4 separate regions of the Homo sapiens genome follow, and regions 1, 3 and 4 are each reported to be linked to region 2. The links are microRNA targets in miRTarBase. Many come from high-throughput screens and were not tested one by one. Region 2 holds a microRNA gene; each other region holds the end of a gene's coding sequence.

The links. Region 2 holds the annotated microRNA hsa-miR-548ay-5p (AAAAGUAAUUGUGGUUUUUGC, at 1,363-1,383, opposite strand). A microRNA usually pairs through its seed, bases 2 to 8, with sites in the 3' UTR of a target mRNA and lowers its output. Matches are read on the target gene's strand: a 7mer-m8 pairs with bases 2 to 8, a 7mer-A1 pairs with bases 2 to 7 and ends in A, and an 8mer does both.
Region 1: the mRNA of PRPS1 is a reported target of hsa-miR-548ay-5p. The part of its 3' UTR that is shown has no 7-base or 8-base seed match.
Region 3: miRTarBase lists RSBN1 as a target of hsa-miR-548ay-5p. Seed matches in the 3' UTR shown: 7mer-m8 at 1,732-1,738.
Region 4: the mRNA of PCMTD1 is a reported target of hsa-miR-548ay-5p. Seed matches in the 3' UTR shown: 7mer-m8 at 2,425-2,431.

The regions. Positions count from the first base shown.
Region 1 is chrX:107,649,786-107,652,960 of GRCh38, forward strand. PRPS1 (phosphoribosyl pyrophosphate synthetase 1) reads left to right here. Exons shown (of 7, transcript NM_002764.4): 7 at 155-1,241. The coding sequence ends at 247. Among named protein-coding and RNA genes, the nearest start is that of PRPS1, 23 kb to the left of the region's middle.
Region 2 is chr3:32,504,980-32,508,164 of GRCh38, forward strand. MIR548AY (microRNA 548ay) reads right to left here and starts at 1,410; the gene lies at 1,304-1,410. It also overlaps the pseudogene RPL31P18.
Region 3 is chr1:113,763,047-113,766,231 of GRCh38, reverse strand. It overlaps RSBN1 (round spermatid basic protein 1), which reads left to right. Exons shown (of 7, transcript NM_018364.5): 7 at 1-3,185. The coding sequence ends at 252. Among named protein-coding and RNA genes, the nearest start is that of PHTF1, 5.2 kb to the right of the region's middle.
Region 4 is chr8:51,817,469-51,820,653 of GRCh38, forward strand. PCMTD1 (protein-L-isoaspartate (D-aspartate) O-methyltransferase domain containing 1) reads right to left here. Exons shown (of 6, transcript NM_052937.4): 6 at 115-3,185. The coding sequence ends at 2,883. Among named protein-coding and RNA genes, the nearest start is that of PXDNL, 9.6 kb to the left of the region's middle.

The DNA of each region.
Region 1 (3,175 bases), not on the chromosome of region 2:
AGAATAGCTGAGTGCAGCCTCATGACAGGGAAACAGCACAGTGTTGCAGTTTTAAGAGGAAGGGCACTTGCCTGGCTGCTCATCAGTGTCTGCAAATTGGCCAGTCATCTCTGACCATATGATAGTAACCTGATTTCCTTTCTTGCCTTTCTAGGTGATTGACATCTCTATGATCCTTGCAGAAGCCATCAGGAGAACTCACAATGGAGAATCCGTTTCTTACCTATTCAGCCATGTCCCTTTATAATAGAGTAACTTCTGAGGCTTTTTGAGAATAAAATCCACCCCACCCTTGTTTCCCCTTGGTATTTGATGACAAATTCAGCAGAAGACCCGGCTTGCTCCAGTGTAGCTTTCTACATCCCACATCAGGTATATTAGAGCTTATCCGAACTGGGGAAAGACGGATTGAGATTAACTGCTGGGACCTCCTACCTGCATTATCTCATTCTGGCTTCCTTGATAATTCTGTGGGCCTTGCAGCTTTAACTATAGCTCAGCTGCTGCAAGATTTCAGACTTTTGAGGATGTTGTGTGAGGGTGTTTGACTGTGACTGGGGAAGCTCAGACTACTTTGTATGTGAATGCTTCAGGGTTTTCTTTGTTGAGAACAACTAGCAACAAAGGCAACCCATGTGTGACCAGTTCTCCCCAAGGTCTATGCTAAATTATAGCAAGAGCCCTGGGCAACCCCAAACCTAGTCCTGGTAGCTGAGCACCCTGTAAGGCAGGAGCAGGCAGCTCAGCTTGAGCAGACATTGGGTGGGGGGTGGGGGGTGGTTGAGGGGGGAGGCAGCACAGTGCAGCAAATGTTTCTTGGGAGGAAGAAGCCTGATCCATCACCATCTGCTTGACTATGTAGCTTGGATTCTCCTTTGTACCTATCCCTTTCGATTTGGCTTTACCTTCATCTATCTTGATCCTTTCCTGGCCAAATATCCTCTTGGGCCCAAATGAACATTGTACCATAGTCTTCTGGAAAGCAAACATGCTTCCTGCTATGTAATTGCTAACATTCATATTAGATGATGTGCTGTAGCTTGATCTTCCTTAGCCTACTGCCACTGAGGCAGTAGGTTTTAGGTGGTATCGTAGTGCCTTTTGATTAATTTAAGTATTTAATTTTCATCTTCCTTCTTTGGATCTATTTGGCCTCTCAAATGAACTGAGATTCCTGTTAAAAAAGATTGATGTTATTGTCTCTTGTAGAGGAAACTAATAAAGTGTGTGTACCTGTGTGATTTGGGGTCTGTATCATACATAATCTGTACTGATCTCTCTGCTAAAGGTTTGGTTTAGATAGATGTCTTGCTGTCCATTGATAGCTCTTATTTGTTTCCAAACTACGTTAGCTTCATTGTTAAACCAAGAGAAGACATTGGCAGCAGTTTTATTCAACTGTAAGACTAAGATGTCTGGAGTTTACTGAGAATGTGATAAGAGTGTAATTCTGTGCAGTATACCTAAATTATAGCATGTATAATGTCTGGTGGATCTCTGGTTCTTACTCCTGAAGATCCAAATTAGGTATTTTCTTATGGGAGGAGAATTTCTGTGATTTATTCATTTTGAACTAATTTTGCCAAATGTGATAATTTCCTTCCATTCATCAGTAATTGACATACGTTTGGCATTTACTTTCTTTGTTTTTTTTGATTTTTTGGTTTTTTTTTGAGATGGAGTTTCGCTCTTGTTGCCCAGGCTGGAGTGCAATGGTGCAATCTTGGCTCACTGCAACCTCCGCCTCCCGGGTTCAAGCAATTCTCCTGCTCAGCCTCCTGAGTAGCTAGAATTTATAGGCATGTGCCACCATGCCCAGCTAATTTTATATTTTTAGTAGAGACAGGGTTTCACCATGTTGGTCAGGCTGGTCTTGAACTCCTGACCTCAGGTGATCTGCCCGCCTCAGCCTCCCAAAGTGCTGGGATTACAGGTGTGAGCCACTGGTGCCCGGCTGGGCATTTACTTTCATCCCTGCTAAATAAGAACTATTTTGAGAAGGTAAATGTGCAAAATTTAAGGATGAATTATTATGCATTCCAAAATTTTAAGTTTCCTTCTTTCTTTCCTTTTTTTTCTCTTTCTTTCTTTCCCTTTAGCTCTCTCTTTCTTCATTTCTTTCTTTTCTTTCCTTCCTTCTCTTTCTCTCTCTGTCTGTCTGTCTGTCTTTCTTTCTGTCTTTCATCTTTCTCTTGCTCTGTCACCCAGGCTGGAGTGCAGTGGCTCGATCTTGGCTCACTGCAACCTCCACCTCCTGGATTCAAGTGATTCTCCTGCCTCAGCCTCGAGAGGGATTACAGGTTATCTGGGATTACAGGTGTGCACCATCACACCTAGCTAATTTTTGTATTTTTAGTAGAGACAGGGTTTTGCCATGTTGCTCAGTCTGGTCTCAAACTCCTGGCCTCAAGTGATCCGCCCACCTTGGCCTCACAGAGTGCTCGGATTACAGGCATGAGCCACCATGGCGGCCTTAAGTGAGTGAGTTTCTTGGCCCATCATCAAATAAGGGTGCTCTTTTACTTTGGGAAGCTACATGGCTACAGAGCTTCATGAAGAGTGCTTCCTTATTTGTGAAGCCCAGGTCTACTTTTGTTTATTTTGTTTTTGCTTTTGTTGGATATCGGGATATCTATTTTACAGCTAGCTCTTTGATAAAAGTGATTCAGGAGGGACTAAAGTATACTATGAAATGTGCGCCTCTAACCCTCTAGACCTCTTTAATCTCAGATTTTTGCTCTGGGAGAAGCTGATGTGAAGCACCAATGCCTTCACTTGCTCATCATGCTATTTCCTAAAGTATTGGATCAGTGGGTCAGGTCTCATTGTTACAGAATATTTTGACATTAAGATCTCTCTTGTGGGCCCCTTTGGGTAATTCATTTCCTAGGATGAGGTTTTGAGATTATTCAAAAAAGGCCCAGTCCCCAACTTTGATCCCTTTCAAAGCAGTTGTTTTTTGTTTTTGTTGTTTTTGTTTTTTGAGACAGAGCATCGCTCTGTTGCTCAGGCTGGAGTGCAGTGGCACGATCTCGGCTTACTGCAACCTCCGCCTCCCGGATTCATGTGATTTTCCTGCCTCAGCCTCCCAAGTAGCTGGCTAATTTTTGTATTTTTAGTAGAGATGGTGTTTTACCATGTTGTCCAGGCTGGTCTCGGACTCTCGACCTCAGGT
Region 2 (3,185 bases):
TGCACTCCAGCCTGGGCGACAGACCGAGACTCCGTCTCAAAAAAAAAAATCATTGTTAAAAAAACAACAACAACAAGGATCTCTAATAAAGCAACTGCAGTAACATATTAATGGTAATATTTAGGTGAAGTATACGGGTGTCCACTGTACAATTATTTCAGCATTTCTGTATGTTTGAACATTTTCAAAATAAAGTATTGGGAGGAAGTTACAAAGAAACAAGGATACTTTGAGACAAGAGAGAAGATGAACAGACTTCGTCAACCCTCTTGGTTTGTTTAGGGCACACTTATGCAATTCTCTAGGGGTCTCTGCTTCTCTTTGCATTTTTAGAAGAAGACACAAATTTAGCCTGTGATTCATAAACTCCAACATGGCGAAGAATCATCTGTGAGATTAATTAAAAAGGAAGATTCTTGGAGATCTAGCCCCAAAGATTCTGAATGTAGATGGGGCTTGGGAATATACTTTCGTAACAAGCTCTTCATGTGAATCTGGGAAGAAATCCATCCACATAGAGAAACACTGTTTTATAATGTGATAAAAGTGAAAGCCATTGTGTAGTAGACAGTAGACGTGCCATATTTTCTTTGCTCTGATTGATTTGGGGGTGCCTGGGATTTAGAGACTAATATTTCACCCAGGTAAAGAAATGGGCATCCCTTACATTTTCTTCATAAATTGAAAGACCAAATAAAAATGTTAGTGCTTCATGAGCAAATACTTGTATAGGAAACTCTTTTGATGGGCATATTCACACAGAAAACTGTCACCCTCATTAATGAATAAAACAACTTGCAATAGTCAAATGGTGGGACTCACTATGTTGAAATGAGAAATCTTACGTATGGTGAAAAAAATACGACAAAAAGAAGAAAGGAAGATACACTAAATTTAGGTTTTAAAGAATATTCACTGTTCTCCTTTAAAATTAGATATTTAATTTTTTAAAAAAAGAAAGAAAAACATTCACAAGAAGAGAGAGCGATTGGGGAACATAATTTGATGGGACTTCAGCCATTCAAAAAATAATGTGGTAGTGTTGGAGGCTGTTGCAAGACCTTGGTTCTTGTCTTCTTAGTTTAAAAGAATTTAAACAAGAGACATACAGCAAAAGAGATGCAGCATAATTTATTGCAAAAGAAAAAAAAATTTTGAAAGCTAAGTACAAAATAGACATCACACCCTGAGAGAGAGAGAGAATTCAGGGCAGGCTGCTCGTAAGGATGAGACAACATTGATTATTGCTGGAGGTTATTGCTAATCATGTATTATTTGCATGATTATTCATAAGGAGGTGGGAAGAAGTGTTACCGTTAGGTTCGTGCAAGAGTAATCGCGGTTTTGGCCATTACTTTAAATGCAAAAACCACAATTACTTTTGCACCAACCTAGTAGTAAGCATCTTCTGGTTGGTCCTCTGGCTGCACATGTGCAGTAGCTGTGCACCCATGTTCCTCCCTCAGGTGTCCCATTAGCATTGTAAATCTCCACCCAAGGGCATGTTTTTTGCTATTATAATGAGCAAAAGGTCAGTTTGAGGACAGGTAAAATCAAAGTGCTCATGCTCTCTATAGAAGAAATTTCCTACTGAAGATAGCTTTGCTCGACTGAGTTCAATCACAATTCAAATGCTGAGGCTTATTGTGTTGACTGTTGGGGTCACCATGGTTGCTGCGTCCTGAGGATATGGGCACTTCCTTGACTGCCTATCCTGCCTCAGTACTACTTTTTCAGTTCAGAGTTTAATTTTTTTCAGCAGTTCCTGCTAAACAATTTTTCACTGGCCCTCTTATCGGTATTAGCACAGTTAGGCAATACTGTGGATACAAAGTTAGATTATAGACGCTATCCTACAATGATACCACAGTAATGTCCACAAAGAACTATGTTACAAAATAGAAAGAGATATGTGTTATAGAAGAGATACAAATTAAATATGTTGCTAATTCGGAGCAGAGAGAAATAACTTTCAGTTTAAAGGATCACTACAGTGGAGCTTCAAGATGGGGTTAAACTATACTTCGGTTTGGACATGCAGATACAGGGCAGAAAGTATTCAGGCAGTAGGGTGGTATGAAGGAAGGCAAAGAAAGTGTGCATAGGCACAGTGAATGAAGGGAGCAGGAAAGGACAGAGTAGTTAAGGAATATAAGCTCGAGATCAAATTTTGGAAGGCTTTGAAAATCAAGCTAAGGAACTGGGCCTTTCCATTATTGTTGGGTAATGAAGAACCCCCAACGAGTTTTAGGAAGGGGAGTGAAATGATCGGAGCTTTTCCTTGGGGATATTTTTCTAGTAGCCTTGAGCGCAGTGGTTACAGAGATCCAAGTAAGGGCTATTGTAAAAGTTCAGGAGAGAGGGAATAGAAGCTTAAACTCTGACGTTAATCATGGGGATGGCACCAAGAGAACCTTGGAGGTAAAACCAGTGAGATTTGAGGACTGATTTGTTTAGAGAGTAAGAAAGGAACTGGAGCAGGTGCCAATATTTCAAGTCTGGGTAACAAGGAGATTGAGGGAGAATAATAACAGAGAGGTAATATAGGAGGCAGTAACTCTTATTGATGTCAAAGTACAAATTTCAAAAAATTAAAAAGATAACTTTCATACAAGCATATAGTAAGCCTGCTTCAAAGATTTATCTAATTTATTAATAGGCTGGGCTCATGCCTGTAATCCAGGCAGGAGGATTCCTTGTGTCCAGGAGTTCGAGACCAGACTAGACCCCATCTCTAAAAAAAAAAAAAGAAAGAAAGAAAAAAAAATTAGCTGAGTGTGGAGGCATATGCCTGTAGTCCCAGCTACTTGGGAGGTTGAGGTAGAAGGATCGCTTGAGCCCGGGAAGTTGAGGCTACAGTGAGCCTTGATTGTGCCATTGTGCCACTGCACTTCAGCCCAGGTGACAGAGTGAGACCTTGTCTTAAAAAAATAAAATAAAATAAAATATTGCCTTTCCAACTTGGACCCAACAGAATGGCTTCCGCAAAGAAGGGTGGCCAAAAGAAAAAGGGCCGTTCTGCTATCAACGAGGTGGTGACCCAAGAATACACCATCAACATTCACAAGCGCACCCATGGAGTGCGCTTCAAGAAGTGTGCCCCTTGGGCACTCAAAGAGATTCGGAAATTTGCCATGAAGGAGATGGTAGCTCCAGACATGTGCGTTGCTACCAGGCTCAACAAA
Region 3 (3,185 bases), not on the chromosome of region 2:
ATGGACTGTGGTTTAACTGGAAAGCGAGAATTAGAAGTTGACTCCCAATGTGTGAGGATAAAAACTGAATCTGAAGAAGCATGCACAGAGATTCAGCTGTTAACAACTGCTTCATCATCTTTCCCACCTGCATCAGAACTTAATCTACAGCAAGATCAGAAGACTCAGCCTATTCCAGTTTTAAAAGTGGAAAGTAGACTGGACTCTGACCAGCAACACAATCTGCAAGAACATTCAACCACTTCTGTGTGATATGTACATATTCAAACACATTTTTTAACTTTTTTAAATTTTGATGTGAAGTTATAGTTTTATAACTGGCTTAAGTTAAGTTTTATTGGAGAAATCTTGCCTATAATTCTATAAAGAGAAATGACATTCCACAAATGTCAAGCATATCTTTTTTACACAGATTATGCAAAGTTAAGAGTTGTATCTTATCCCGTTAGTACAGTATGTAATAGTGGGTCTGCTGCTACTTTCTGTTTTAAGGTGTGAGGTAACAATTCAATCTCTTCTTCAAATCAAAATGAGAATTCTCTGGAATAACAGATTCTTGTTTGGTAAATTATTCACTTCCCTTAATTTTATCTTGCCTTGTCTCTTGCCATATTTGCTGTTTTTATGGATAAATAAGATTTATGGTTTAGTACTTGTGTCTTTATGGCACAGGTTCAATTTCTACAGTGAAAATGGCATAGGTTGCAGGAAAGAATTTCTGCATCTGGTACATGGGCAAGTAAGTTATTTAGTTCTAACCACAAATAACAAGTAGTTTCCAAGGAAATTTCAGTGGCTCTCTGGTTTCTTAACAAAAGAGAAAGCACAGCACTTTCTGATCCAAACTGTCTTTTTTTTGTATCTGTTATTTAAAGCCCAGTGGATATTTCAATTAAAAAAAAAATCTAAAGATGAATAGTCCTTGGTCATTCATTATCCATGGCTCATTAATCTCTTCTAGAATATATGCTAACTGTTGAAGATATTTTGGGTAAAAGAGATAATGTTGACATGATACTCTATTGTTCTGCTTCCTGGCATCCTCACATTTTGTGGGGATAATTTTGCTTCCTAAACTGATCACAACTATTAAACTTAGAGAATAATAATAGTCTTTCTGATGAGGCTGCCATATTTTGAGCATCAATCTTATGATAAACTATTCTTGTCACTTGGCATCAACCTCTTCATGATAAATATCTACTACTGAGACACTTCAATTCACAGTTTTAACTGGTGAATACCTGGGTTTATTTACTATTACTCTGTGTTGCTATTTTCTAAGAAAGAATACAGCACTAGACTTCATCCTAGAGTTTCAGGTAGGCTAATGCTTAGTGCCTGAGTATTTAAATTTTCTTTTCAAACAGGCACAGTTCACATTGCTAGTATGGTCCTAACTTTCTGTTATTTTAGAATGTTAACATGATTCACATTATACTTTCTCTTAGTTAATAATACAGTAGGCCTTTTGTTTATTAATGGAAGAGTACTCCCCACACCTAAGACCAGATTCTTATATCTCCCTGGTTACAGTGCAATTTGGAGATTTTTTTTTTTTCCTGGATGGTAAGATTTGAAATATTTACATTAACATAGGCAAAAAAAAAAAAAAATACAAGATGCTGCTTTATTATGTCTGTCACCATGAAAACTTAGCTGCATCTTTTGAAATATCAAATATGAATTTTCTCTAAAATATTCTGAAATAGGTTAAATCTTATATAAATATTACTTTGTGCAATATTGTTGTGTAGTTAAATGCATATTAGCAAAGTATAGAGGTCACTGTGTAAACCGATAGAAAAGTAACCATCAGCAAATACTGCAGTGATTAGTTAGAATCTGTATTATTCCTTATATATATGTATATGTATGTATTCTCTGTTACAAAGGATGAAGACAAATAGGGATACATTTCAATGTAAACCATTTATGAATTGGAAGTGATGTTGGCTTTAGTTATCTTTGTAAATAAGGTAATTAGAATGGTATGAAAGGTAATGTGATTATTGCAGGGGTGTTTTTAAATCTTGGGTATAAATTCTAGGGTAAATTCCAGTTTATCCAGACTAGTTTTTAACGGGACCTGCCTTTGAGGGTGTTTTTTGTTATTTTGTTGGGGAGGGGTTTAATCACAAAGTGTGTGGGTTTGGGTTATTTCTTGTTTTTATTTTTCTGTCCAGAAGAGCTTTACCAGGCTGTGCAAAGTAAAATTCTTCTCAGGCAACATTTGCTTTTAAAAATAATCATGAAGAGAAGGCTGTTAAAGCAAAAATTTTTTTTTTTTAATTTTTTCTTGTCTTCCAAGATCCGATTTCCCCATCTCCCACTTGCCATCCAGCAGATGCCATCTGTCATCCAAGCTGGTCATTGCTAATAAACAAGGAGACTGTCTCCTGACAGCCAGCACTGTGTATTATCACTCAGGAACCAGCGGATCTGCAAAGACCTACAATCAAAAGCAAATCCCCATTTTCCTTTTATAAAACATTCTACCCTCACCTCCAATATAAACACATTAAAAGAGTACAATAAAAATGTTTAAAATCATGTACTAATAAATTCATTGTATGTTAGAATTGCAATAGAATGAAGAGAAACATTTAGCTAGTAACGTGATCTGAAAACTGAATGTCCTATGTGAGTATTAGATTTTAATAGCATGCTTTAAAGACTGATGAGTATAAAAGCAGAAGTTTTGCGTTTTTTACTGCTTTCAAAGCTGTATCCTAGTTTAGTGATACAAATGATTGCAATTTTTCTAAATCATTAAATTATTTGGTTTGGTGGAGTGAGGCATGGAGCAATCTGGCGTCTTCTGATTTGTTAAAGTAGTGATGGCAGTGAAGTTGTAACTGAAATTTAAGCTGATCTTCCTTTTTGGTATATTATCCGTTGTGCCAGCTCTTGAGATTACTTGCACAATGTGGCTATAAGTTTTAATATTTTGTGGAGCAGAGGGATGGTTTTTAAATGTGCTTATGGAAAGGACCCAATAAATGAATATTCCTAACTTAGTAAAGTAGAATAATTTCATGGTATTCATTAAAAAGCATAAAAGTCTTCCTCTTGCCCCAGAAGTAATTCTCTATACCAAGATATGCTAGGAGTAGGATGATGATTCAAAGTGGTAACCCAAATTCATAAAGCAATAATAATAAAAACCTATATAGTATGTTCTC
Region 4 (3,185 bases), not on the chromosome of region 2:
TCCAAATAAAGACAATTGTATGCCATAATTGAGCATATCCATAGGTGTACTGAGATTGCCTAAATTTAAAAAGAAGAAGACAAACATAAAAGTCAGGCCATGGGAGAAAAATGCTTAATTACATGTAATTGTTTATTTAAAATAATTTTCCAAGTCTTCCAATGATTTAACAGGCTTTGCTTCACTTTTATCATCTCAAACAGCTATAAATCAACACACTTTTTGTATTTTATTTTACTACTATGTATGCTATTTTAATAACATTTTTCTTTATTAATACTAGAACCAAATATATTGACCAATAAGCAGTATAGATTTAAATTATCTTCTTGGGTTGGTCTGAGGTTGCTGATGGATTCTTGGGATTGATCTGATGCTAGAAGCTATCTTAGGCCCTGTCTCTAACTCACTGTATGTTTCAGGCAAAACATGCCACGGTTCTAGGTCTGTTTTCTCATCTGCAAAATAAACACCCAAATTAGATGATACTTACTGTTTTAACTAGCTATAAAATTCCAATACTATATTCCCCATCATTTTCACTTACTTTTACTTAATCTTTATTTGCTACTTTTCCACCTATAAAGCGTAATTTTCCATATCAAGTAAACATAAATTCATTAAAAAATAAACACAAACCCAAAATATTCTTATTCTAATATATCTGCATTAATAGATAAAAAGGCTTTAGCTTTAATTTTCATTTTTCATTTCTACCTCTTAAAGTCAATGATAAACTCACAAGTGTAAAATGAATGCATTTAAAAACATAAAAGATACATTTCAATGACAAGAAATATGCAATGATCATGAAAATCTACTGTACACTTTGCCATGGTCAAAGAATGAAGGACAATATGGAAAAGCCAATCTTCAAATATATCCTTAACAAAAACTCTCTCCTGCATAGTAAAAGCATCATCTAAACAGCAGCTCCAACCAAAAAAAAAAAAAAAAACAAGCAGGGGAGATGGGACAGATAACTTTCTCCAGGTTTTCCAGATAAAAACATGTGGTCACCAGGAATTCAAGGTAACTAGGTACTTCAAAAGCCACATTTAATTCAAAATAAAATGAGCATTTCTGACAGATGACAACAGTATGAAACTGATTTTTTTCTTTCCTAGATACAAAAATGATATGGGGCATTTCTTAACAGTTTAGTAATCGTCTAAGAATAATTGTAGAAATAACCCCAATTCCACCATCCCAGCCACTGGTATAAAACAAATACCTTCCATGAAACTGTCTTTCACATAACTAAAATATCCTCACTTACTTGGAACAATTTCATGCTTACACATGATCACAAACATTTGTTTTTAGATGTTGTGGAATTACTGGAGCTGAGATTTCTGAAACAATATCTGAATCTTAGCAGAGAGATAATAATCCTTTCACTATACATTGCTTGGGCTTCCTTAACCAAATCTGAGTAACTACTGTAATAATAATGCTGGTGGTAGTCCATGATACTCTCAAATTTTTCCCTTTAAGAAATATATAATCCATGTAACTCTAGCAAATATGTTACATTGTACACTTTCTTAACAAGGAATGGCTGTTTTCAGGCCTTATTAGGAAAACAAACAAACAATGGCAGTTACTACCTGTTTTTTATCACTGATAAGCTAAAATAAAGCTCAAATATGGACAGTTTAACTGTGTGATATTAAGTAAAAAATGAAAACCATTATAGTTTTACCAAAAGAAACACAAAAAATATGGGAAGGAGTGAAATGAACATGGCATAGGTCCCAAAGATTACACTATGATTCTGAACAGCATTTTCAAAACAAAGGGTATCTACATACAATTTCTGTGAATATTTCTTATACTAGATAGATCAAAAGCAAATGTAGGCTCAGCCCTACCTTGTCAAAGATAAATATTCAGATAAACTAGAAGTTCCATCTGCTAAAGTGCATCCGCTGACCAGGTCTACCCTGGCCCTGCTACTTACAGCCATCCAAGAAAGTGGCCTCACTCATGCTCATTCACTCGTTCTGTGTCCTATCAAGAGTCACACATAACAATGGTTTTGCTTTTTTTAAAAAACCAAATACTTTATACAGTGAACTACAGAAAAAACAATTCTAAATATACTTTTAAAATTCTATAGAGTTAAGATAACCTCATTTTTTTAAATACTGAAAATGTAAAGGGTCCATATAAAGAGTTGTATTAAGTATAGACTTTGTTTTAATAATTCACTTGCTGTGCTCTTAAAATCTCTATGAGAGAGGCAGATATTTTACCCATGTCTTTTGGCAAGAGATTCAAAAGCAAAAGTAGCAGGGCTGTAAAATTTCATAAAATTTGTGGGATTTTTTAAAGCTAAATTATTCAATATCTTGTATTGTTATTGCACTCATATATTGCCCGGAATATATATACAGCAACCCAACAACAGTGATTGCAACAAAAGTAAGGTAAATAGTCTACAAAGCATTTGACTTCCTTATTAGATAAATGAAGTTTTCATAGAGGAAATGCAAACAACTGCAATTCAGATCAGGTTATATAAGCTTAACAATTATTTAAACCATATATAAAATTAAATCTAAACCTCATCACTACAAATCTGTAAGGAATCAGAAAAGGATTTATAGTACACAAGTCTTGACTACTGTTGCATTCCACTTTGAAATCACTCTGAGCTAAAACAACATTTTTCCAAGATTTAAAGAAAAATAGATTTTATAAAAGGGATTCTTTTATTCACTGAATACATCATTTGTGTTACTGACAGAAACAAGTGATTTTTTTTCCACTATAATTTGCTCTGATGAAAGAAATAATTCTCTCTTTTAACTCCTAACAAATGCTACATTTTCAAGACTAAAGGAATTATCAGTAGGCATTTTTCTTCTTGATCTAAGTTATTTGTCTCTAAAATATGTCAAGTAAGCTTTTAAAGATTCAGGGAGGGGCAGCTTCATGATTTTTTCTCTCAGTAAATTTTGAGGTGGCTCCTCTGGCTTCATTGCTTCATTGTGATCTTTTTCCTCCTCTTCTTTGTTATCCTCTTCCATTTTTTCATCCTCTTCACTGTCTAGAGGCTGAGGAATAAGCTGATTACCCACAAATACGTAAGTGTTAATTCTCTGTTTAACTCTCTTTCTTTTCCTTTTGGGTGGAGCCCTTTGAGGAATCCCCTTGGCCTGCATCTCATCATTTATGAA